Linked DNA regions of Homo sapiens: regions 1, 2, 4 and 5 are each linked to region 3. The links come from fine-mapping of genetic effects on gene expression. A gene starts in region 3. Each other region holds a variant in brackets. All regions are shown on one strand. Distances are between the middles of the regions.

Region 1 (5,106 bases), 41 kb before region 3:
CCACCAGTCCTACTGTTCTTTAGTATTTCTCAAATTGTCTCACTCTTCTCCATCTGAGCTCCCACCATCCTCATTCATACACTCTCCTTCCTGGGTTACCATTAGATCTTACTAGTCTTTTTGTCTCTGATCTTGTTACTCTCATGTTACTGTGGTGTGAGACCAAAGAGAATAAATTTACATAAAACACATCTGGCCATGGCATGTATCTGTTTAAACGTCTTCTGAGATCCTGTTACCCCAGGATAACATTCAGTCTCTTCACATGATACATAAAATGTTTCATGTGGCCTGGCGTGGTGGCTCATGCCTGTAATCCCAGTATTTTGGGAGGCCGAGGCGGGTGGATCGCCTGAGGTCAGGAGTTTGAGACCAGCCTGGCCAACATGGTGAAACCCCGTCTCTACTAAAAATACAAAAATTAGCTGGGTGTAGTGGTGGGCGCCTGTAATCCCAGCTAGAATCACTTGAACCCGGAAGGCAGAGGTTGCAGTGAGCCGAGACTGTGCCATTGCACTCCAGCCTGGGCAACAAGAGCGAAACTCCGTCTCAAAAAAAAAAAAAGTTTCATGTATCTTTAGCTGCTCTCTGCTTCCCACATTACCATCTGGAAACAGCACTCTTTGTAGTCATTACCCACTAGTGATATGCTGTCACCCACATTTGGTACCTTTGCTCATCACTTTGGGAGAGCAGTGTAGCTTGTTGCTATTAAAAAATGAGGCTTTAGAATCATACTGACCTGAGTTCAAATCCTCATTCTGATGTGTACCACCTACTGCTTGGGCAAGCTACTTAACTTTTACAGCCTTATTGTTAGATTTGAAAAATAGGGATGCTGATAGTAGCGGTTTCATTGAGCACAGTATCATCTGAGTTAAGATTGCATGAAAAGCACTTAAGACAGTATCAGAAGGCAGCAAGGCCTGGTAGATGTTGGACATTTTTTTGTTGTTTGTATTTCCTTTGCCTAGAATGCTCTTATTGCTGACTTTGTCCCACTATTCATTTTGCTGGCTCACTGCTGCACAACCTCTGACTTGGCTCAGATATCATCTCTTCCAAAGGCATCCTTGGGTGGGGGAGTCTGCATCTGTTACCCTAGGCTCATCACTCTCATTGCTCTTAGCATATGTATCAGACTTACCTTCTCATCTATTCTGAGTTCCTTGAGGGCCATGTCATAATGTTTGCATCTCCATTTCCTAACAATTTTTGGATTGAATTGAATAGAAATGTTATCTTCCTCCTCAGCCTCCAGTGGGGAGCAGGAGAGAACTAAGCAGCAACCATGTTAATTTCCTTGAATTCTTTTGCATGCTGTTTTTCATTATTTTTCTCAATACACATAATTTAAAGCCATTCTACCTGTCTGCTTTTATCCTGTTAGTCTCTGACAGGTGAGATATTAGGAGAGACAGGATGTGTGAATACAAGTAAGTAGAAACAATTTGACAAACGTTCTCTTCCTTCCAAGAAAAGCATCTCTTTTCCTGTTTTTCTCTGGCCTTGGAATGATGGATTGTAAAAATCGAATCAACATCTCCTTTTATTACAACACATTAGCTAGGCCCAGCCGAAGATTTATAGCTTTCTGTAAAAACAGAGTCTAGGGGAATGTTAAATACTCAGTTTTTACCATCCTTTCTGCTTTTCACCCCCACCCCAATCCTGTGGGAATAGATGGTCAATACATGGTGCTTAGGTAGTTACAAAGTCTAGGAGTTACTGAGTCGGAACTAGATGCCCAGGAGAAAAGGCTGGTTAGCTTAGTTTGTTTCATGAGTCAGACTTCCAAAAGTGGTTTGGTTATTATTCTATCTTTTAAATATGGGGTCTCGTTATATTGCCCAGGCTGGTCTCAAACTCCTGGGCTCAAGTGATTCTTTCACCTCAACCTCATGAGCAGCTGCAATTACAAGTGTGAGCCACTGCACCTGGCTAGCTTGGTTTATATGAAAAAGCAGTGAGTTTGGAAATGGTTGAATCTGTCCTTTTTATAGGCAGAGCAACCAGGACTCAAGAAGTTTAACATTCACTAGCTGGGTGATCCTGGGGAGATTATTTTCCTTAAGTGCTATTGAAAGGAGAAAATCATATAAGGTCCATGTAACACTTATCAGAGTGCTGGCGCACAGGAGCACCTAACACTTTTTTTTGTGTACACCTAGTAACTGAAAAGAGTGGTCCTAACATGTCACTGCCAGTTCCCCTTTTAGGTTTTATTTCCCGTAAGGTTTTATTACCCGCATTCCTCACATTTTTACATGGAGAAGGGACTTTCTGTTCTACTATCCAGAAGTATATGAAGAGCACTTCCAGCTCTCTTCCTTGTGAACTTTGCTTTGGCTCAGAGGAGGAGTAAAGGGGTCCCATCCTGTTTGGGTAATGAGCTGAGCCTGTGTGGCTGCTCACCAGGGTGATCATTCTTTTGTGGGTTCCCCCAACCCACAGGATGTGTGTTGTCTCCTACTCCCTTTTGTGGGGCACTAACAGGGCCCCGCTGATTCTGTAAAGAAGACTTTGATGTCCTGCAGGCTCAGTGACTGGATGGCAGCTATCTATAGCATGTGAAATCTCAAGAGGCTTATTATGACCACATGTGTCAACTGTGTTCTCCAATCTAGTTGCCAGAAATGAAATTAAGGTATTTAACTCCGTCTGACTTCTGTGTTATTCCTTGGTTGATTTCCTAATTTGGGAGTAGACAGAAAAGTTGAAGGCGCTAGGCCCATTGCTCATGCCTGTAATCCCAGCACTTGGGGAGACTGAGATGGCAGGATCACTTGAGCTCAGGAAGTCCAGACCAGCCTAGACAACATAATGTAGACCCCATCTCCACACACACACACACACACACACACACACTCACGTGCACGTGCAAAAAATTGGCCAGGCATGGCTGTGCATGTCTGTAGTCCCAGCTACTCAAAAGGCTGAGGTAGGGGGTTTGCCTGAGCCCAGGAAGTCGAGGCTGCAGTAAGCCATGATCACACCAC[T/A]GCATTCTAGCCTGGGTGACAGAACACGAGTTAAGAAAAAAAAAAAATGTTGAAGGCTAATGTATTAGTCCATTCTCACGCTGCTATGAAGAAACGAAGAAATACCCAAGACTGGGATAATTTATAAAGGAAAGAGGTTTAATTGACTCACAGTTCTGCAGGGCTAGAGAGGCCTCAGGAAACTTACAATCATGGCAGAAAGGGACACAAACACATCCTTCCTCACATGGCAGCAGCAAAGAGAAGAGACAAGAGGGGTGAAAAGCCCCTTATAAAACCATCAGATCTCATGAGAACTCACTATCATGAGAACAGCATGGCGGTAACTGCCCCCATGATTCAATTACCTCCCACTGGATCCCTCTTATGACACATGAGAATTATGGGAACTATAAGATTAAATTTGGGTGGGGACACAGCCAAACCGTATCAGCTAACTAATGTTAATATCTTGTAAGATCTTGATCCATTGGCCAGATGTGTTGAGAGAGAAATTCTGGTGGCTGGGAACACAACTAATAAGGAGTCAGATCAAGGCTTTGGGCCTTGCCAGGGCCCCAAACCTCAAATATTAGTACAAGAGCAGTTGGTGGATCATGGAAGCATCTTTCTCCATTGCTCATGATGAACAACTGTTTCTACTTGGTCAAGCTGATTAGGACTTAGGAAGCAGGGCCCTGTGATGCTCTAGCACTGACCTGAACTGACTCGGGCATGTGTAGTCATTCCGTTGGCAAAGGACGGCTCAGGCGAAAATAATAGGAAAAGTGTGTTTGAGCTTTGGTTAAGGCTCCATTCCAAAGAGGCAAATCTTTCCAGTGCGGCTGACTTGACTTTGGTGGATGTTGCTATTTTTCTTGTTTCTTAGCCAAATTTGCAGGCCAGGACTTTAATCTGCAAAGACAGCTGTATTTCTTGCGGGGCTCAAGGCATTCCTGTAGGCTTCTTGCAAGTCATATGAAGTTAGCCTCAGACCACCTGCCTCAAATTCAGTTACTACTTGTGCTGTTTACAGATAGCATCCAGAGCCAAGTTAGATAGCTAAGAAAATAAGCAAATGAAATGCAAGTACTTTGTTTAGATCTTAATTTGAACAATACATTTTGAGACAATTAGGGATATTTGAATATAGATTGGGTATTAGACAATAACAAAGAGTTATTCATAATTTTGGGGGTATAATATTTTGATTTATGTAAGAAAAATATCTTTTTTAAAGGGCTGGCTACTGAATTATGTAGGAATGACATGTTTGCCATTAATTTTAAGGAACTAATGCTTTGAGTATCAAATCTCTAAATCAATGTAAAATATTAGGAGGCCCACTAGGAACATGTGTATAAACTATATTTTGTTGGGTATAATAGTATCAATAGTAACAACAGGAATGGTATCAATAATACAATCATTAAATGGAATTCAGGATGGTTCAATGATTTACTTTATTAATAGCCCCAAGGAGGAAAAAACTCCCATATAATCATTACAATGTGAAAGACATTTGAAAAAAAAACTCAACAACCCTTCCCAAAAAGTAATTATCAGATTGTAGATGTTAAAGTTTATTATAAAGTTCAATAATTGAGAATGTAATACAGGAAAAGAAAATAACTGTATAGAATAGTACGTTTACCTGCAGACCTAAGTACATATGGGAATATGGATTTTAATATCTAGCAAGTTATATATGTTTCTAATCAGATTCCTCCACCCAAAGCAATAAGCCTGGATTAGAGTGAAATACCAAAAGTAATCTGATACTTACTAGTACTAACACTAGATTTGATATTAGTAGTGCTATTTTAATTTTTTTTTTTAGAGATGTGTCTTGGTATACTGCCCAGGCCAGTGTCAAACCCCTAGGCTCAAGCAATCCTACCTTCTCAGCCTTCTGAATAACTAGTAGTAGTTAATATTGTTCTGAATGTGCTAGTCAAAGCAGTTAAATAGAAGAAAAAAATAGGTATAAGAAGAACTTGGTATGTTATTTGCAATAATTATTTCTAAATATGTATACTAATTTTCTATGAATTATTTTAGTATCTACTAATACTACATAAATGTGACAAGTTGGAACTTTAATATATAGAAACTAGTAGCATTTTTT
Region 2 (5,106 bases), 31 kb before region 3:
AATTGTGAATGGATGTTCACTCATGATTTAGCTCTCTATTATTGGTGTACAGGAATGCTTGTGATTTTTGCACAGTGATTTTGTATCCTGAGACTGTGCTAAAGTTGCTTATCAGCTTAAGGAGATTTTGGGCTGAGACAATGGGGTTTTCTAAATATACAATCATGTCATCTGCAAACAGAGACAATTTGACTTCCTCTCTTCTTATTTGAATACCCTTTATTTGTTTCTCTTGCCTGACTGCCCTGGCCAGAACTTCCAATACTATGTTGAATAGGAGTGGTGAGAGAGGGCATCCTTGTCTTGTGCCGGTTTTCAAAGGAAATGCTTCCAGCTTTTGTCCACTCAGTATGATTTTGGCTGCAAGTTTGTCATAAACAGCTCTTATTATTTTTAGATATGTTCCATCAATACCTAGTTTATTGAGAGTTTTTAGCATGAAGGGGTGTTGAATTTTATTGAAGGCCTTTTCTGCATCTATTGAGATAATCATGTGGTTTTTGTCATTGGTTCTGTTTATGTGATGGATTACATTGATTGATTTGCATATGTTGAACTAGCCTTGCATCCCAGGAATGAAGACTGCTTGATCGTGATGGCTAAGCTTTATGATGTGCTGCTGGATTCAGTTTGCCAGTATTTTATTGAGGATTTTCTCATTGATGTTCATTAGGGACATTGGCCTGAAATTTTCTTTTTTTTGTTGTGTCTCTACCATGTTTTGGTATCAGGATAATACCTCATAAAATGAGTTAGGGAGGAGTCCCTCTTTTTCTATTGTTTGAAATAGTTTCAGAAGGAATGGTACCAGCTCCTCTTTTTACCTCTGGTAGAATTTGGCTGTGAATCCATCTCGTCCTGGGCTTTTTTTTTTTTTTGGTTGGTAGGCTGTTAATTTCTGCCTCAATTTCAGAACTTGTTATTGGTCTATTCAGGGATTCAGCTTCTTCCTGGTTTAGTCTTGAGAGGGTGACTGTGTCCAGGAATTTATCCATTTCTTCTAGATTTTCTAGTTTATTTGCATAGAGGTGTTTATAGTATTCTCTGATGATAGTTTGTATTTCTGTGGGATCAGTGGTGATATCCCCTTTATCATTTTTTATTGTGTCTGTTTGATTCTTCTCTCTTTTCTTCTTTATTAGTCTGGCTAGTGGTCTACCTATTTTGTTAATCCTCAAAAAACTAGCTTCTGGATTCATTGATTTTTTTGAAGGGTTTTTCATTTCTCTATCTCCTTCAGTTCTGCTCTGATCTTAAGTTATTTCTTGTCTTCTGCTAGCTTTTGAATGCATTTGCTCTTGCTTCTCTAGTTCTTTTAATTGTGATGTTAGGGTGTCGATTTTAGATATATCCTGCTTTCTCCTGTGGACATTTAGTGCTACAAACTTCCCTCTAAATACTGCTTAGCTGTGTCCCAGAAATTCTGGCACTTTGTGTCTTTGTTCTCATTGATTTCAAATAACTTATTTATTTCTGCCTTAATTTCGTTATTTACCCAGTAGTCATCCAGGAGTAGGTTGTTCAGTTTCCATGTAGTTGTGCAGTTTTGAGGGAGTTTCTTAATCCTGAGTTCTAATTTGATTGCCTTGTGGTCTGAGAGACTGTTTGTTATGATTTCCATTCTTCTGCATTTGCTGAGGAGTGTTTTACATACAATTATGTGGTCAATTTTACAGTAAGTGTGATGTGGTGCTGAGAAGAATGTATATACTGTTGATTTGGGGTGGCGAGTTCTGTAGAAGTTTATTGGGTCCACTTGGTCCAGAGCTGAGTTCAAGTCCTGAATATCCTTGTTAATTTTCTGTCTCGATCTGTCTAATATTGACAGTGGGGTGTTAAAGTCTCCCACTATTATTGTGTGGGAGTCTGAGTCTCTTTGTAGGTCTCTAAGAACTTGCTTTATGAATCTGGGTGCTCCTGTATTGGGTACATATATATTTAGGATAGTTAGCTCTTCTTGTTGCATTGATCCCTTTACCATTATGTAATGCCCTTGTCTTTTTCGATCTTTGTTGGTTTAAAGTCTGTTTTATCAGAGACTAGGATTGCAAACGCTGTTTTGTTTTTTTGTTTGTTTTGCTTTTCCTTTGCTTGGTAAATATTTGTCCATCCCTTTATTTTGAACCTATGTGTGTTTTTGCATGTGAGTTGGGTCTCTTGCATACAGCACACTGATGGGTCTTGACTCTATCCAATTTGCTAGTCTGTGTCTTTTAATTGGGGCATTTAGCCTATTTACATTTAAGGCTAATATTGTTATGTGTGAATTTGGTCTGTCATTATGATGCTAGCTGGTTATTTTACCCATTAGTTGATGCAGTTTCTTCATGGTGTTGAAGGTCTTTACACTTTGGTATGTTTTTGCAGTGGCTGTCACCGGTTTTTCCTTTCCATATTTAGTGCTTCCTTCAGGAGCTCTTGTAAGGCAGGCCTGGTGGTGACAAAAATCTCTCAGCATTTGCTTATCTGTAAGGGATTTTATTTCTCCTTCGTTTATGAAGCTTAGTTTGGGTGGATATGAAATTCTGGGTTGAAAATTCTTTAAGAATGTTGAATATTGGCCCCCACTCTCTTCTGGCTTGTAGGGTTTCTGCAGAGAGATCTGCTGTTAGTCTGATGGGCTTCCCTTCGTGGGTAATCCGACCTTTCTCTCTGGCTGCCCTTAACATTTTTTCCTTCATTTCAACCTTGGTGAATCTGAAGATTATACATCTTGGGGTTGCTCTTCTCGAGGAGTATCTTTATAGTGTTCTCTGTCTTTCCTGAATTTGAATGTTGGCCTGTCTTGCTAGGTTGGGGAAGTTCTCCTGGATAATATCCTGAAGGGTGTTTTCCAACTTGATTCCATTATCCCTGTCACTTTCAGGTACACCAATCAAAAATAGGTTTGGTCTTTTCATATAGTCCCATATTTCTTGGAGGTTTTGTTCATTCCTTTTCATTCATTTTTCTCCAATCTTGTTTTCACACTTTATTTCATTAAGTTGATCTTCAATATCTGATATCCTTTCTTCTGCTTGATCAATTCGGCTTTTGATACTTGTGTATGCTTCAT[G/T]AAGTTCTCATATTTTATTTTTCAGCTCCATCAAGTCATCTCTACCAGTCTTCTCTACACTGGTTGTTCTAGTTAGCAATTCCTCTAACCTTTTTTCAAGGTTCTTAGCTTCCTTGCATTGGGTTAGAACATGTTCCTTTAGCTCAGAGGAGTTTATTACCCACCTTCTGAAGCCTACTTCTGTCACTTCATCAAACTTATCCTCCATCCAGTTTTGTTCCCTTGCTGGCAAGGAGTTGTGATCCTTTGGAGGAGAAGAGGCTTTCTGGTTTTTGGAATTTTCAGGCTTTTTGTGCTGTTTTTTCCTCATCTTCGTGGATTTATCTACCTTTGGTCTTTGATGTTGGTGACCTTCAGATGGGGTTTCTGTGTGGATGTCCTTTTTGTTGATGTTGATGCTATTCCTTTCTGTTTGTTAGTTTTCCTTCTATCAGTCAGGCCCGTATGCTGCAGGTCTGGTGGAAGTCCACTCTAGACCCTGTTTGCCTGGGTATCACCAGCAGAGGCTGTAGAACAGCAAAGATTGCTACCTGTTCCTTTGGAAGCTTCATCCCAGAGGGACACCTGCCAGATGCCACCTCCCTGACTGGGAGGTGTCTCCCAGTCAGGAGGCACAGGGGTCAGGGACCCAATTGAGGAGGCAGTCTGTCCCTTAGCAGAGCTCAAGCACTGTGCTGGGAGATCCGCTGTTGTCTTCAGAGCCAGCAGGCAGGAATGTTTAAGTCTGCTGAAGCTGCACCCACAGCTGCCCCTTCCCCCAGGTGCTCTATCTCAGGGAGATGGGAGTTTTATCTATAAGCCCCTGACTGGGGCTGCTGCCTTTCTTTCAGAGATGCCCTGCCCAGAGAGGAGGAATGTAGAGAGGCAGTCTGGGTACAGTGGCTTTGCTGAGCTTCTGTGGGCTCCTCCCAGTTCGAACTTCTTGGTGGCTTTGTTTACACCGTGAGGGAGAAAACCGCCTACTCAAGCCTCAGTAATGCAGATGCCCCTCCCCCAACCAAGCTCGAGTGTCCCAGGTCGACTTCAGACTGCTGTGCTGGTAGCAAGAATTTCAAGTCAGTGGATCTTAGCTTGCTGGGCTCCGTGGGGTGGGATCCACTGAGCTAGACCACTTGACTCGACTCCCTGGCTTCAGCCTCCTTTCCAGGCGAGTGAATGGTTCTGTCTCACTGGCATTCTAGACACCACTGGGGTATGAAAAAATCTCCGGCAGCTAGCTCAGTGTCTGCCCATATGACCGCCTAGTTTTGTGCTTGAAACCCAGGGCCCTGGTGGCATAGGCACCCAAGGGAATCTCCTGGACTGCAGCTTGTGAAAACCGTGGGAAAAGCATAGTATCTGGGCCAGAGTGCACTGTTCCTCACAGCACAGTCCTTCACAGCTTCCCTTGGCTAGGAGAGAGTTCCCCAACCCTTTGTGCTTCCCAGGTGAGGTGACGCCCCCACCCTGCTTTGGCTTGCCCTCTGTGGGCGCACCCACTGTCTAACCAGTCCCAGTGAGATGAGCCGGGTACCTCAGTTGGAAATGCAGAAATCACCTGCCTTCTGCATTGATCTCGCTGGGAGCTGCAAACTGGTTCTGTTCCTATTTGGTCATCTTGCCAGCCCACATTATTATTATTATTATTTTTGAGATGGGTTCTTGCTCTGTCACCCAGGCTGGAGTACAGTGATGCCATCACAGCTCACTGCAGACTCCACCTCCTGGGCTCAAACAATCCTCCCACCTCAGCCTCCTGAGTAGGTCGGACGACAGGCATGCACCACCATGCCCTGCTAATTTTTTCTATTTTTATTTTTATTTTTTTGTAGAAACGAGGTTTAACTATGTTGCCCAGGCTGGTCTTGAACTCCTGAGCTTAAGCAATCCACCCACTGCAGCCTCCCAAAATGCTCAGATTACAGGAGTGAGCCACTGCACCCAGCCAATTTTTTATTATTTGAAGGAGGGTCCAAAATTTGTGTAAATGTCCACCTCACCTCAAAAAACTAGTTCTGCCCCTGGCTGTGGTCTTAAGTAGAGAAATATAAGTACTTCTGAAGGAGATCTTG
Region 3 (5,106 bases):
CCTAGTTGATTTTGATGCCTCCCCACCCTCACCCTATGATGACAATGTTTAGACTGGCTGATCTGTAGCTGCTTTCACTCCAAGGATGAATCCTGGAAATTGCAGTTAGCTGAGTTTGCATAACAAAGAAAATGCAGTAGACAGCAGGCAGTTTGAGAACAATCATGATTGGGGAAACCCTCCCTGGTAAGGATCTTGTTTATCATGATCAATAGCGAAGGGTTTGGCCAAGGAAGGCACTCAATAAGGTTCGTACTGGTTGAAAGAATGAGTGAATGAATGAATGAAAGAGCAGGCTTCACAGAGACAAAAATAAAATGTTCTTTGTTCTTCCTTTTGCACAAAAACTGGCCCCGATGCCCTTACTTAAAGGCAAATAAATCTCTAGAGATCTAAATGGATTTTTTTAATTGCCATTTTGCATTTTTAAGATCTTCAGATCGGGTATAATACATCAGAAAGGAGTCCCAATAAATAAAGGAATGCCATCCTTTGTCTGCTCTTTTCAAATTGCATTTGCAATGAATGTTATCAGCATAGCAAACTGTCTACGCAAAAAAGTGTTATTTTTGAAGGCTAAATTTGATCCAAGATGAAAGTAACTTTTAAAAATTGCATCCTAGTTAAAGATATCAATATCACACAATTTTAAAAAAGAACTATTTGTATTCTACTCAAAGAGACAACAGTATATAACATTGGTTTCTAAAACAATATTTTCTGAACCCTTGGCTGTGTACTGACATCATATGCTGGGCTGAACTTTGCATATGTGACTCAAGAGAGAGAAAAGAGATGTATTCCCATCCTCAGTCTCTGCTCTACTGTAGAAGAGTACTGCAAGCTTCTAGAGACCCAGGTTTGTCTTAATTCTTGGTGATTTCAAGTCTAAACTTAAGATGGTTTAAAGAGTCTAACACAACATTAGAGTTTAGCTACGTAGATTTGTACTTTTAAATAGGACATAATGCTCTGTAGTTTTTTTTTTTAATGTTACGTTGATAAATCGTTCATTATTACAATTTTTAAAGTCAGAGGTATTGTAACGGGATACATTAACTACCCAACTTATAAAGACTTAAGTGTTTTCTCCCGTTCGCTCTTTTGGCTTTTCCTTTCTGGTTAAGAAACTTTCATTCTTTTGAACCCTGCAATTTCTTGGCTTTACAGAGCCCCAAACCCCAAAGACACCAAGATAAGACGGGCAGGCCGGTATGGGGAGGTCCCACAATGACATCAGCATTTGGAACAATTCAAACCTTCACCATCTCTTCTCAACCTCCTATGTCCTCGCCCCCCGTAAAAGATGCGCAGGACCTCGATGGACGAGCCCACCCCTGACCCTCTCAAGGAAAGACAATGCCAGGCTGGTTTTCGAGTTTATTGTCGGCACGCTCCCCCGATGGCAGGCAGCATCCGAGGCGAGCGCGCCTGAGCCTGGGCGCTCGGAGGACGAGGCCAGGTGCATCGGGCGCATCGTCGTCTCCCAGGCGCGTCCCGCTCGCCGCGAGGGAAGGCCGGGGTTCTTCCAACCGAAGAAAACCAAAACCGTCAACGCTCAGCTCCGAGGCCCGCAGGAGGCTTTAAAAATGGCCTCCTGACGACACTTCCTGCTCGGCGCGGACGGTAGGAGCCCTCGGAGGAGGCATCCTTCATAACGCTGGGGGCGGGGAGCGCAGGCCGGGCCAGCGGCGCCACACGAACGGCCCCGCGGGACGCTGCCACCCCCGCCTCGGTCGCCCCGGCGCGTCGGCCGAGTCCGCGGGGTCGCGGCGCACAAAGGCGAGCTGGGGGCGCCGGGCCGGACCCCGACCCTAGGCCAGGCCCGCGTACCTGCTCAACGCGCGCCAAGCCGCGGCCCGGGCCCCCACCCCAGCCGGTGCCCCACGCCCACCAGCCGGAGCCCGCGTTCGGCCTACCCGGTGCCACTTGCCACGACGCCAGCCCTCAGCGCGGGCACGCGGGGCCGCGGCCGCTCGACCCGCCCCGGCCTGGCCCCGTCAGGCCCCCGCCCCGCGCGCCCCCACGACCCGGCCGCAGCTGGCGCTTCGGTCACGTACACGCGGATCCGGGGGCCCTCGCCCTCCCGCTCAGCTACTTACCCGGCAGGCCGGATTCGGGTGCCAGGTCCCGGCGAAGGGGCGTCTACACCGCCGGCCGCAGACCGCCGGCGCCGCGCCCGCTGTAGGTCCCTACCCGGGGGGCGGAGCCCGCGCCAGCCCCGCGCGTGCGCAATGTGAAGCGGCGGCGCGGCTCCAGCGAGGCCGGCGCCTGAGGTCTCTAAGGCTGCGCCCGCCCCCGCCGGGCTTCTAAGCTGTCCAGAGCGGGGAGCCTCAGACCCAGCCGAGCCCCACTTCTGGGCTTAGAGCTTGACCCAACACGTTCGCACCGTAGCGAGCGAGGTCCACATTTAGCCATGCCGCAGGCAAAAGAAGGATTCGGCTTCGGTCCTGGCCCAGTCTGCCATCCCGGGGCGCCTGCCTTGTACCGGGTCCCGCGGAGGGCGGCCTTGGCGCCTGCCTCCCTGGAGCCTGCAGTCCTGCAGTGGGTGAGTGAAAGCGAGAGAAGAGGAGCTCAGGTCCTCAGCCTCCAAACTCGTCTTCTTGGAGAGCTTCAGTGAAGGAGATGGCCTTGAAGTCCTGGGTACAAATCCTGACTCTCCCTACTCCTTTACATCTTAGCTGCTGGACCTTGGCGAGAAAGTCCCCTGACCTCTCTCAGTGTCTTCATTTCTGAAGACGGGGAAGGTCGTATGTGAGGCGCAAAGCCTCCTCTAGCAGTTGGGCGTTGCGAGGGTCAGAGGGGACAATGACTGTGGGAGTCTGGAGAGGGTGTGAGCTCATTTAATGCCAGAGTTTCTTTCCTGCCTCCTGGACTTCGGTGCTATTTTGGGCGAGCCAACTGCCCTCTAGATACACCTGCATCTACGGTCCGGAAGGAAGACATATTTAGAATAGAGCCTCTAAGAGGAAAGAAGAAGACCATATTGCCAGGTCCCGCACAATCAGTGACTCCCCACAAAGTGAAACAGCTCTCCAGCAGGGGCAGGTTGAGGCATGGGAGCAGCGTCACTGGGAAGTACAGTTTCTTCGGGATGAACAGCTAAAGTTTATTTCAAAGCTCTGGAGGCGGGGGCGGGGCAAGGCTGGTTTCCATCACCTTCCTGTTGGCGGCCAAAGGTCGGCGTGCACGGACAGCGGCCAGTATGCTGCACGGAGGAGATGTGGGCCTGGGCAGTACTGCCACACGGAGAAGCGGAGTTGAAGAAGACAGGCTCAGCCACAAGTCCAGCAGCTGGGCAAAACCTCCACCACTAAAGTATCAGGAGCTGGGCAGAGAAAATAGCAGCCCAGAGAGCAAATCCTTCTTCCTGCCCTAGGCTGCAGTGCTCCTAACCTCGGTCCTGATCAGGGAGCTGCTAGGGTCCTGGTTTTCTATCTCCTAGGGCTCAGAAAAGCTAAGGAACCTCTTCTCAGAAAAACACATTTATGTGCAGATAGCACCTATCAGAGAGAATATGCCAGAGAGTTCAAAGTCTCCCTCAAGAGTAGGGTCAAGTTGGGAAAGGCATTGAGAATCCAAACTAGGAGCCACTGCCTGAAAATCTCTAGTGGCAAACAGAGCCACATCAGGAAAAACTATTAATTCTAAGTATTGGAGAATCTGAGGTCTAGACATTAGAAAATTGTCCTAAACTTTATAAGGAGAGGCAACTCTCCTTATAACTTCTACTCATGCATCACAGTTCTGCCCTCTTAAGTCACACAGAATTGATGTAAGGTACCTGTGGGTCTCCTGGGAGTTTTTCTGAAGTGAGAACTGGTTATAAATCCCAGTTCGGCCACATAGAAGTTGTGAGCCTGTCTGAACCTCAGTTTCTCATGTAAAATTCAGTGAAAAATAGGTCCTTCCTCCCAAGGGGGTTGTCAACATTAAACAAGAGAAAGCAAGTCAGGACTTATCACAGTCCCTGGCAGATAGAAGTGACTGTTAACTTACTCTTCAGTAGCCCAAATTCAGGGAGATGAAATGCTTTGTGGAGTGTCTGGAAATGGAGTGTTTACAGCCTGAAAAAGGGTCAAGGAAAAATAGAAACTACTTCAGCAGAAACCTTTAAGGCTGATGTCCCTAAAAGTCTTTTGATGCTTGCAAATGTGAATCATCACACGTTCCCTACACGTCTGCCCTTCATGTCTTCTTCTCCACCCCCCAGCTTAGTTTGCCTAAATTCCGTGGATCACTTCTGTCACGAGTTGAATTATGTTTCCCAGAAAAATACGTTGAAGCGCTAATATCCCCCACCCCCAACTTATGGATATGACCTTATTTGGAAACACGGTCTTTACAGATGTAAGACAAGGTCATTAGGGTGGGCCCTTATCCAATGTGAATGGTGTCCTTACAAGGGACACCATTCTGTGTCTCTGTGAAGAGACGCAGAGAAGAAAATGCCATGAGAAGACATGGAGACACACAGGGAGAAGAAGCCATGGACAGAGGCCGAGATTGGAGTACACAGCCACAAACCAACGGCTGTTGGAAGATGGAAAAGGCAGGGAGGATCCTCCCCTAGAGGGTTCAGAGGGAGCATGGCCCTGTGGACCCCTTGATTTCAGACTTCTGAGCCGACAGAACTGTGAGACAATACATGTTTGTTTGGTACAGCCACCCTAAGAAATCAATGCACCCTCCTAGTTATGACTACCTAATGTAGGAGAGAAGAAGGAAGACATGAACCAGTCCTTGAGTATAAGATTTGGGAGCCAACGTTCATTCATTCACTCATGCATTCAACAAAACATGTATTGGGCTGGGCGCAGTAGCTCATGCCTGTAATCCTAGCACTTTGGGAGGCCGAGGCGGGCAGATCACCTGAGGTCAGGAGTTCAAGAACAGCCTGGCCAACATGGTGAAGCCCCGCCTCTACTAAAAATACAAAAATTAACTGGGCGTGGTGGCGGGCGCCTGTAATCCCAGCTACTCAGGAGGCTGAGGCACGAGAATTGCTTGAACCCAAGAGACGGAGGGTGTAGTGAGCCAAGAACGAGCCACTGCACTCCAGCATGGGCAACAGGGCAAGACTCTGTCTCAAAAAAAAAAAAAAAA
Region 4 (5,106 bases), 43 kb after region 3:
GAGGCTGAGGCAGGAGAATCGCTTGAACCCGGGAGGCAGAGGTTGTGGTGAGCCAAGATCACGCCATTGCATTCCAGCCTGGGCAACAAGAACGAGACTCCGTCTTAGAATAAATAAATAAGCTGGGTGCTGTGGCTCACGCCTGTAATCCCAGCACTCTGGGAGGCTGAGGCGGGCGAATCACGAGGTCAGGAGATCGAGACCATCCTGGCTAACACTGAAACCCCGTCTCTACTAAAAAAATACAAAAAAATTAGCCGGGCGTGGTGGTGGGCGCCTGTAGTCCCCGCTACTCGGGAGGCTGAGGCAGGAGGATGGCGTGAACCCTGCAGGCGGAGTTTGCAGTGAGCCGAGATCGCGCCACTGCACTCCAGCCTGGGTGACAGAGCAAGACTCCGTCTCAAAATAAAATAAAATAAATAAATAAGAATTATATAATGCTTTCCTAAAGATGAGAAATTCTATAAGCTGAGAGAAGATATAGAAGGATAAAGGGACACTGAACTGGAAAGTCCATTACCATAGGCATCTTAGGGCTACTATATCCTACTTATTAAAATGACTCAGGAATAGTAATGAAAATATAACTAAAATTTATTGTGGGCTTGATAGGTCCCAGGCACTGTTCTAAGTGTTTTACATTTATTAACTTGCCAATCCTCTCCACAAAATGAAGAACTGACCACTTCTGTCTTTCGTGTTAACGTAGCACTTTCTTAATGTGGTTGTACCTGGTAGATTTATGTATTAATCTATGGATTCACTCATGCACTTGTTCATGTCACAGTGTTCCCGGGCTGTAGCAAATGGTGGTGTGGGATATGATGAAGATTCTCTTCAAATAATCCGATCAAACTTTTATTCTTTAATTCATTGTACCCCCCCCCCCCCAACCCTTGTCCTTTTTCTCCTGTTTTCCTTTTTGCCTTTGTTAGATGCCCAGGCACGCCACAGTACCAGGCATTATCAGTACCAGCTCACATTCCTTTCCTTATTTGGAAAGAGGACTAACTTTTTAGCTCATTACAGACACCCCTTCCCCTTCCTCTCCACTTTCTTTTATATGCCTACTTTATCTAAAAAAAATCAAATGTTTAGCCAACTGGGATTAGTTTAGATTGTAAGACCTGACCCCAGCCAATGGGGAAAGGGGACAGGGGCAGGACTTGTGTCAGGAATAAAGGCTCTCGTGCCCCTTTGTTCAGGTATGCTCTCATTGCGACTGTCCAAGGAGGCACCCCTCTGTGCAGAACTAAAATTGCTTTGCTAAGAATCCTTTGTTCGAGTGTTCAATTTCCTTAGGATTTTGAGCGTTATTCCTAACAGTGGTGAACTGACCTCATGGTCGCCTCACAGGTGCTGACTATTCCTCTCCGAGTCTCAAAAAAGTGCTCTGGTCAGACACGGGATTTAAGCTGGAATCTTTATGCAGCCTGCGCATCGATTTCACACGTGTGCCTACCTGAAGCCTGTTGGCAGCCCTAGCAATGTGCCCTATTTTGTTATCTGTTGAAGAACAATCGGTATCTGTGTGAAAGTTCTGGTTTTATCCTGTATTAGTTTGTCAAGGCTACCGTAACTAAGCACTACAGACAAGGTGGCTTAAACAACAGAAATGTCTTTCTTCGCAGTTCTCGAGGCTGAAGTCCCAAGGTCAAGGTGTTGGAAGGCTGCTTTCTCCCACGACCCCTCTCCTTGGTTTGCAGATGGTCGACCCTTCCCAGTGTCCTCACATGGTCGCCCCTCTGTGTGTGCCTGTGTCCTAATCTCCTCTTGTCATAAGAACATCTCTCATATTGGATTAGGACTCATCCCAATAACCTTGTTTAACCTTAATTACCTCTTTCAAAGCCCTATCTTCAAATACAGTCACATTCTGGGCTACTGAGGGTTAGGACTTCAACGTGTGGGTTTTTTGGAATGAGGGAGGCACGATTCAGCCTATAACAATGCACACCCCCAGATAAAACTGAGACCTGGAGATGTTAAACAGGAATCATTAAATTATTGAAGTCTAGGCTTTAAAAGAACATTTACATTTGAGGAAATTGAAGCCCAGAGAAGTTAAGTCACTGGACTGAGCTCACATCCTTAGAAATGGTGGCTCATAACTAACTTCGTTCCTTCCTTCCTTTACCCCTTCCTTCATCAACAGAAGAGTTGCAAGAGAAGCCTCTCCTTCCCCCTTCCGTTACTGCCTGTGTGTCTTTGGCCATTTATTTAATTTTCTGAGCCCCAGTTTTCCTACATCTAAGATAGGAAAAATCATGACACCAAAGAGTTGTTGAGGATCAAAATAAGATACTGCTGGCTGGGCACAGTGGCTCACGCCTGTAATCCCAGCACTTTGGGAGGCCAAGGCAGGCAGATCATCTGAAGTCAGTAGTTCGAGACCAGCCTGACCAACATGGTGAAACCCCATCACTACTAAAATATAAAAATTAGCCGGGTTTGGTGGGGCATGCCTGTAATTCCCGCTACTCAGGAGGCTGAGGCAGGAGAATCACTTGAACCTGGGAGGAGGAGGTTGCAGTGAGCCGAGATCTGTACTCTGGCCTGGGTGACAGAGTGCGTCTCTGTCTCAAAAAAAAAAAAAATGCAGATAGACTAGGCCTGGCAT[A/G]TACATAGTCAGTGAAAATTTATCCTTTCTTGTGGATTGATTTATGTTATTCACGAATATTTTAATTGATTCACTCTTTCGCCTCCATCAGCAGATCTGTACTGAGGACAGGCATGCCCAACATAGCCCTAATGCTGTGGCTGGGTTCACATTCATTTTGGGGACACGAGTCTATAGATAAGGAATTCTGACAGACATCAGAAATGTCTGCAGTGGCATTTCAGTGCTGAGGAGGGAAAGGAATTTGGCATTAGTGTATGCTCCGCTGGAAGCTTCCTGGGAGGCAGAGTTTAGATGTGTCTTGTAGAATGAGTTTTCTTTAACAGGCAACGCAGGGAATGGGGGTGCATGAAATGGTCAGAACTGGTCGCTGGCCTGGTAGGCCAAAGTGTAAGATGTGCAGATATTTGTGGAAGGGGTGGGGAGGTCAGACTGCATCCCTCTCCTTCAGGGCGGCATCCTCTTCCTCCAGGGTGACATCCCCCAAACTCTTCCTTTATTTGTTGCGCTTAGCCTGGAACAGGGAGGCTGTTAAGTTATACCCACCTCATCTCCTCTGAGTCCTGTCCCCAGGGCAAACTGCTGATTCCTCTCCAGGAAGCGTATTTTTACATTGTAGACTTTGTTCTCATAAAACACAGCCAAAACATAGGGCTCTTCCTTGGATTTTGTGGAACAATCTCGGACCAAGAAACTACCATCCTGAAGCAAAAAGAGTAACAGTCATCTTTTCAGACACGCCAGCATTCTGCCCTTGTAATGGTGGCAACAATGATGTCTGCATGCATGAGATTCCCAGATGGATTTAGTTTTTGGTAAACCACTTTAATTCAGTAAGTTTTTACTGAGTGTCTGTATGCCTAAGGGTTCTTGTCACTTTCTGAGATGTGTACCAGTTGGATCTTGACACTCTCTTCTTGAAAGTCTTTCATTGAGGCCAGGTGCGGTGGCTCACCCCTGTAATCCCAGCACTTTGGGAGGCCAAGGCAGGCGGATCACCGGAGGTCAGGAGTTTGAAACCAGGCCTGCCAACACAGAAAAACCCCGTCTCTACTAAAATTACAAGAATTAGCCGGGCATGGTGGCGGGCGCCTGTAATCCCAGCTACTCAGGAGGCTGAGGCAGGAGAATCACTTGAACCCAGGAGGCAGAGATTGCAGTGAGCCAAGATCGTGCCACTGCACTTCAGCCTGGGCAACAGAGCAGGACTCTGGTTCCAAAACAAAAACAAAAAGAAAAAAGAAAATCTTTCATCATTTCCTACTGACCTGGGCATAGTGCTCATGAACTTAGCATGACCAACCTATCTTGCAGTTTGATCTCTCATTGCTCCTGCAGCTTTCTGCCTCTGGCTCCTGGCTCCAGCCAAGCCACCATTTCCCAAAGGCACCATCTGCTTTGGGGCTCCCAGATTTTGCATGATGTATTAGTCTGTTTTCACACTTCTATAAAGAAATACCTGAGACTGGGTAATTTATAAAGGAAAGAGGTTTAATTGACTCAGTTCCACATGGCTGGGGAAGCCTCAGGAAACTTATAATCAGGCGGAAGGCGAAGGGGAAGCAAGCTTGGACCTTCTCACATGGCAGCAGGAGAGAGCAGAGTGAGGAGTGAAGGGAGAGGAGCCCCTTATAAAACCATCCTATCTCATGAGAACTCACTCACTAGAACAGCATGGGGGAAACTGCCCCCAAGATCCAGGTCTCTCCCTAGACACGTGGGGATTATGGGGATTACAATTCAAGATGAGATCTGTGTAGGGTCACAGACAAACCATGCCACATGTGCTACTCCTTCCTCATGGAAAAGCTCTTCTCCTGCCCCCTTCTTGATGTATTCATCTCTCAATGTTCACATATTTCCTCTTCTGCTTGATGCTCGGGTATTATTCTAGAGATAGTGGGAGCCACAGCAGGCTTTGAGCAGAAAAAACTTTTACCTAATAAATTGGACTTCTGTGTGGAAAGATGTCTATGCAGAATTAGGGTTCCTGAAAGAGACATGGGGCTTTTAAGTCATGGATATCAAACTGAATGGAGAGGCCCTTTACGGGAGGAGGAATTGTAGCCTATGTTGAGGTGAGGGCCAGTATAGGGCAAGGAAGCAAAGACAGAAAAGGCCCGGAGATGCCTGAAAGATGACGGAAGACCAGGAGATTCAGAGTGACAGAAGCCAAGAGGTGGAGACTGAGGGTTTCCAAAAGCGGGTCAACAGCATTGAATGGTCCAAGAGCTGAGAACAGGACAATGATTAGAAATAATTTGTACACTCCAGAGAATAATTCAGAATGATACTAAGATCTGGTTGTAAAAGATTGAGAAATGGAGCAGTCCTCCTGAACGTGAACACATCTACCAGGCTTAGTTTTGTGGTTACATTGTGTTATTTATATAATGAAAAACACTGAAAAATCTGTAAGTGTAATTGTGTGTATTGTATAGATGGTTATAAGTGATCTATGAAGAATAGAGGCCGGGTGTGGTGCC
Region 5 (5,096 bases), 27 kb after region 3:
TGGAAGCCTTATTACAGTGGGTGCATACATTTTGTATTTTACTAAATACTGCTAAATTGCTTTCCAAAATGCTATACCGATTGATGTTCCAACTAGTAGATGAAAATTTTATTTTGTACATCCTCATCAGCTTTTGACATTATCTGAATGTTTAATTTCACCCAGTGTGATGGGTGAAAGTGCTATGTAGTTGCTATTTTAATTAACGTTTCTCTGGCTGCTATTGTAGAAGTAGCTGTCAGAACCACATGAAGCCTGGAAATGCTGGGGAGTCTTCTGGGTAATCATCCTTTGCCAGGCCTCCCAATAAGCACTGAGGAATGTTCTAGGGTTCATTTGCTCATTTTACTTTCATCTTATGGACTGCCAGTACCAAAATCTGTATTAGTCCCAGTTCTCTAGAGGGACAGAACTAATGGAATAAATGTGTATACACACACACACAAATATATATATATATAAAGGGGAGTTTATTAAGTATTAACTCACATGATCACAAGGTCCTACAATAGGCTGTCTACAGGCTGAGGAGCAAGGGGAGCCAGTCCAAGTTCCAAAACTGAAGAACTTGGAGTCTGATGTTTGAGGGCAGGAAGCATCCAGCACGGGAGAAAGATGTAGGCTGGGAGGCTAGGTCAGTCTCTCTTTTCCTATTTTTCTGCCTGTTTATATTCTAGCCATGCTGGCAACTGATTAGATGGTGCCCACCCAAATTAACGGCGGTCCTGTCTTCCCCAGCCCACTGACTCAAATGTTAATCTCCTTTGGCCACACCCTCACAGACACACCCAGGATCAATACTTTGTATCCTTCAATCCAATCAAGTTGACACTCAGTATTAACCATCACAAATAGGTAGCCAGGAAGCCCATTTGCCATTCTCATGGGGGTTGCTCACTCTTCAGGCCTCTCAGCATTCAGGCTGAAATTCCCTCTGTGTGGGTCCGTTGTCTAGTGCTGAGGGGTTAGGGACCAGGGAAGCCAGACCCCATCTCCCACTCTGCTCCATTAGGCTCTATGTCATCCACTCCATTAGGCTCCATGTCATTCGCTCCATGACAGTGGCTATTGGCATCCCCTGTTAATTGCATCACCGACCAGCTGTAATAGAAACACAATAGCAAAGCTGGATATCTTAACTTACAGGCCTGTGTGATCTTTCTAATCAAGGATGCCATCGCTAACCCTTCTCTCTTGAGGCCCCTCTGGGAGAAGAAGCCTCTACACCAGCTCTGCTTGCTTCTCACCTGACTCGATATTAGTTTCTAAAAAGGTTTGCTAGGATTCATTTTGGTCTAGAGACTTTTTCGTGGGAAAGCTTCTCGTTTCTTTTAACAATGAAGGGCCATTCAAATTTTCTATTTCTTCTTGTATTGATTTTCATCTGTAAAGTTATCTATTTCGACTCCGCTGGAATAAAAGCACTTCTGATAGTTCTTTAATATCCCTTCAATGTCTGTAGTATCTGTTGTTTTGTCTTTTTTGTTAGTAATGTGTCCTTCTACTTAAGTTTTTGATTATTTTAGCTAGCTGTTTATTAATTTTCTTTTGTTTTGTTTTCTTTTTTTTTTTTTTAATGGAGTCTCGCTCTGTCACCCAGGCTGGAGTGGCGTGATCTCGGCTCACTGCAGCCTCCACCTCCAGGGATCAAGCAATTGTCCTGCCTCAGCCTCCCAAGTAGCTGGGACTACAGGCACGTGCCACCATGCCCGGCTAATTTTTGTATTTTTAGTAGAGACGGGGTTTCACCAAGTTGGCCAGGCTGGTCTTGATCTCCTGAACTCATGTTCCGCCCGCCTTGGCCTCCCAAAGTGCCGGGATTACAATCGTGAGCCACTGCTCCCGGCCTATTAATTTTCTTAATTGTACTTAATTGTTATTAATTTTCTTAACTTACAGGAGTGCATAAGTTAAGACATTCCAGCTTTGTGAGTGTGTATGAATTACTTGTTTACAGCCTTTGCTCATACATATTAGGTTGTTTAATTGCCTTTTGACTTTGTCTAACTTTTGTAAACATTTTAAATTTTGGTGTAATGAATCTATCAATCCTTCCCTTGATGATTTAAGTTTTTGTCTTAAGAACTCTTTCCCTATCTCAAAGTCTTAAAAATTATTAGACAAAGATGTAAGACTCAATTTAATAGTTGCTTTTTGCTCTTAAGTATTTGATTCATGTAAAATATATTTTATATGATTTGAGGTAGAGACATAATTGTATTTTTTCTATATGGTGAGCCAGTTTAACCAGAACCACTTAATAAATTATCTGTCCTTTCTCTACAGATGCTGCTTCTATTGTATTCACTTACCCTTCAAACAGGTAGTCACTGCTTCATTCCCCATGGCCTAGAATAGTGCCCCTAAAACAGGAGTACCCAATAATGGGCAACATGCCTGTACTCCTGAAGTAGAGTGTTCAATCTTTTGGCTTACCTGGGCCACACTGGAAGAATCATCTTAGGCCACACGTAAAATACACTAATACTAATGATAGCTGATGAGCTTTAAAAAAAAATGGCAGGGCACGGTGGCTCAT[G/A]CCTGTAATCCCAGCACTTTGGGAGGCCAAGGCGGGTGGATCACGAGGTCAAGAGATTGAGACCATCCTGGCCAACATGGTGAAACCCTGTCTCTACTAAAAATACAAAAAAAATTAGCTGGGCACGGTGGTGGGCACCTGTAGTCCCAGCTACTTGGGAGCCTGAGGCAGGAGAATGGCGTGAACCCGGGATGCGGAGCTTGCAGTGAGCCGAGATCGCGCCACTGTACTCTAGCCTGGGTGACAGAGCGAGACTCAGTCTCACAAAAAATAAATAAAAATAAAAATAAAACAGCTTCATTGAGGTATAATTGGTATATTAAAAAACTGGACATATTTAATGTATCTAATTTAATGAGTTTCGAGATACACATACATCCATAACACCATCATCACACTCAAGGCAATAAACATATCTATCACCTCCAAACATTTCCTGCTGCCCCATCTCCCTTTTTGTGGTAAGAACACTTAACATGATTAACATGAAATCTACATTCTTAAAAAAATTTTAAGTAGGTAATACATTTTCGTTGACCATAGGCACAATGCTATACAGCAGCTCTCTAGTACTTATTCACCTAGTATAACTGAAACTTTATACCCATTGAACAACAACTCTCCATTTCCCTCTCCCCACAGCTCCTGGCAACAACTATTCTATTCTCTGTCCCTGTGAGTTTATTTCAGATTTCTCATATAAGTGGAGTCATGCAGTATTTGTCATTCTGTGCCTGGCTATGTCACTTAGCATGATGTCCTCCAGATTCATCCACCTTGTCACATATGCCAAGATTTCCTTCTTTATTGAGGCTGAATAATACTCCGTTGTATGTATATAACATATTTTGTTCATTCATTGATTCATTCATTTTTTTTTTCTTTTTTGAGACAGTGTCTTGCTCTGTCTCCCAGGCTGGGGTACAGTGGCATGATCTCAGTTCACTGCAACCTCCACCTCCCGAGCTCAAGTGATTCTCCTGTGTCGTCCTCCCGAGCAGCTGGGATCACAAGCACCCACCACCATGCCCAGCTGATTTTTTTTTTGTATTTTTAGTAGAGACGGGGTTTCACCATGTTGGCCAGGCTGGTTTCGAACTCCTGACCTCAAGTGATCTGCCCACCTTGGCCTCCCAAAGTGCTAGGATTACAGACCTGAGCCACCATCCCTGGCCCATTTATTCATTTTTGATGGACATTTAGGTTGTTTCCATATCTTGGAATAATTGTGAATAATGCTGCAATGAATATGGGTGTGCAGATATCTTTTCAAGATCCTGATTTCATTTATTTTGGATACATATACAGAAGTGGGATTGCTGAATATAATAGTTCCATTTTTAATTTTTTAAGGAAACCCAGTACTGTTTTCCATAGTGGCTGCACCATTTGGCATTCCCACCAACAATGTACAGGGTTTCCATTGGTCCACATTCTTGCCAACATTTGTTATCTTTTGTTTTTTGATAATGGCCAACAGGCATATGAAAAGGTGCTCAATTTCACTAATCATTGGGAAAAAGCAAATCAAAACCACAATGAGATATTAACTTACACATATTAAGATGGTTATTACATGTGTATCTTTCCGGCCAGGCTCTGAGCTCACAATCACAGGGATTGTGTCTTTTTTGTCTTTATCTCCAAAGTCTAGCATAATGCTCATATGTCAATAATTGTTCTGGTAATTTTATCCTAAATTTGCCCTAAATATAATTTCAAAAGAGCTTTAGGGGTAATAGGGCATGAAACAAAATTAAACTATGTTTTGAATTTCTTTCTTCAATACTCAGAGACAGAGAAAATTATAACATTCAATTACATATTTACTTTTATTTACATTAGTAAGGCTGTAAATTATGAATGTAAATGTGCTTAGCTAGAACAAATATTGCTCAGAATAAAAAAGATATACAAATATAATGCTAATATACAATATAGGCTATCATAAAAATTTGTATTTGTGTACACACATACATAATTGGCTACATTCGACAATGGGGTTCATTTGATTCCTCCGTAGTAATTAGAACAGGAGACTTAACTGATTACAGCCATGATGCGGTTACTTAAAAACACACACACACACACGCACACAGGCACAGGCACACACATGCACACCCCACATAAATAAGTTTGGGAAAATTTTAAATTTTCTCACTTAGGACTTTTCAAAGCCATCTCAAAGGAGCTTCCTCAAAACATTTAATGTTGGCATCACCCCACAAGTACTCAGAAATAAGTGTTAAAATAGAAATCCAATCCAGTAATGGGAAACTGACTTAGATTATCTTATTTGTTTGTATATTTATTTGTCATCTATCTCTCTTATTCACTGCTCTATTTTCAACATCTACAATAGTGCTTAGTAATGAATACACATGCAGTACACAAAGGTGCTAACACAATATATGACTAATGATGAGGGCTATGCACATTTATACAGAATGAGAATTATTTAGTCCAAAAAATATCTGGAAAGCATAAATGCTGTAATTGGATAAAGCTAAAATTCTATTACTCTATTGAAATCAGATATCAAGTGATACTTTTAAAC

Alleles and levels. Alleles are on the strand shown, and positions count from the first base shown. SD is a standard deviation of normalised expression in the study named. Not every link is listed here.
In carriers of allele G in region 2, the expression in pituitary of the gene that starts at base 2,212 in region 3 tends to be higher than with T alone (small effect, 0.32 SD a copy in GTEx).
In carriers of allele A in region 4, the expression in visceral fat of the gene that starts at base 2,212 in region 3 tends to be lower than with G alone (small effect, 0.20 SD a copy in GTEx).

The links. PIP is the estimated chance that this variant, and not a neighbour inherited with it, causes the effect.
Region 1: its variant is the best candidate, but not a certain one, in a credible set for the expression of ZNF518B in whole blood (INTERVAL, PIP 0.56).
Region 2: its variant is the best candidate, but not a certain one, in a credible set for the expression of ZNF518B in pituitary (GTEx, PIP 0.54).
Region 4: its variant is the best candidate, but not a certain one, in a credible set for the expression of ZNF518B in visceral fat (GTEx, PIP 0.90).
Region 5: its variant is the best candidate, but not a certain one, in a credible set for the expression of ZNF518B in whole blood (TOPMed, PIP 0.59).

Annotation. Positions count from the first base shown.
Region 1 is chr4:10,414,166-10,419,271 of GRCh38, forward strand. No RefSeq gene overlaps it. Among named protein-coding and RNA genes, the nearest start is that of ZNF518B, 41 kb to the right of the region's middle. The variant T/A (reference allele first, on the strand shown) is at 3,000.
Region 2 is chr4:10,423,873-10,428,978 of GRCh38, forward strand. No RefSeq gene overlaps it. Among named protein-coding and RNA genes, the nearest start is that of ZNF518B, 31 kb to the right of the region's middle. The variant G/T (reference allele first, on the strand shown) is at 3,056.
Region 3 is chr4:10,455,215-10,460,320 of GRCh38, forward strand. It overlaps ZNF518B (zinc finger protein 518B), which reads right to left and starts at 2,212. Exons shown (of 3, transcript NM_053042.3): 1 at 2,103-2,212. RefSeq lists enhancers at 1,278-1,337, 1,320-2,135, 1,398-1,557 and a silencer at 1,688-2,327.
Region 4 is chr4:10,498,090-10,503,195 of GRCh38, forward strand. It overlaps CLNK (cytokine dependent hematopoietic cell linker), which reads right to left. Exons shown (of 19, transcript NM_052964.4): 18 at 3,167-3,322. The region is part of intron 2 of LOC105374482 (a long non-coding RNA gene); the gene reads left to right. Among named protein-coding and RNA genes, the nearest start is that of ZNF518B, 43 kb to the left of the region's middle. The variant A/G (reference allele first, on the strand shown) is at 2,621.
Region 5 is chr4:10,482,048-10,487,143 of GRCh38, forward strand. It overlaps CLNK (cytokine dependent hematopoietic cell linker), which reads right to left. Exons shown (of 19, transcript NM_052964.4): 19 at 4,348-5,096. Among named protein-coding and RNA genes, the nearest start is that of ZNF518B, 27 kb to the left of the region's middle. The variant G/A (reference allele first, on the strand shown) is at 2,540.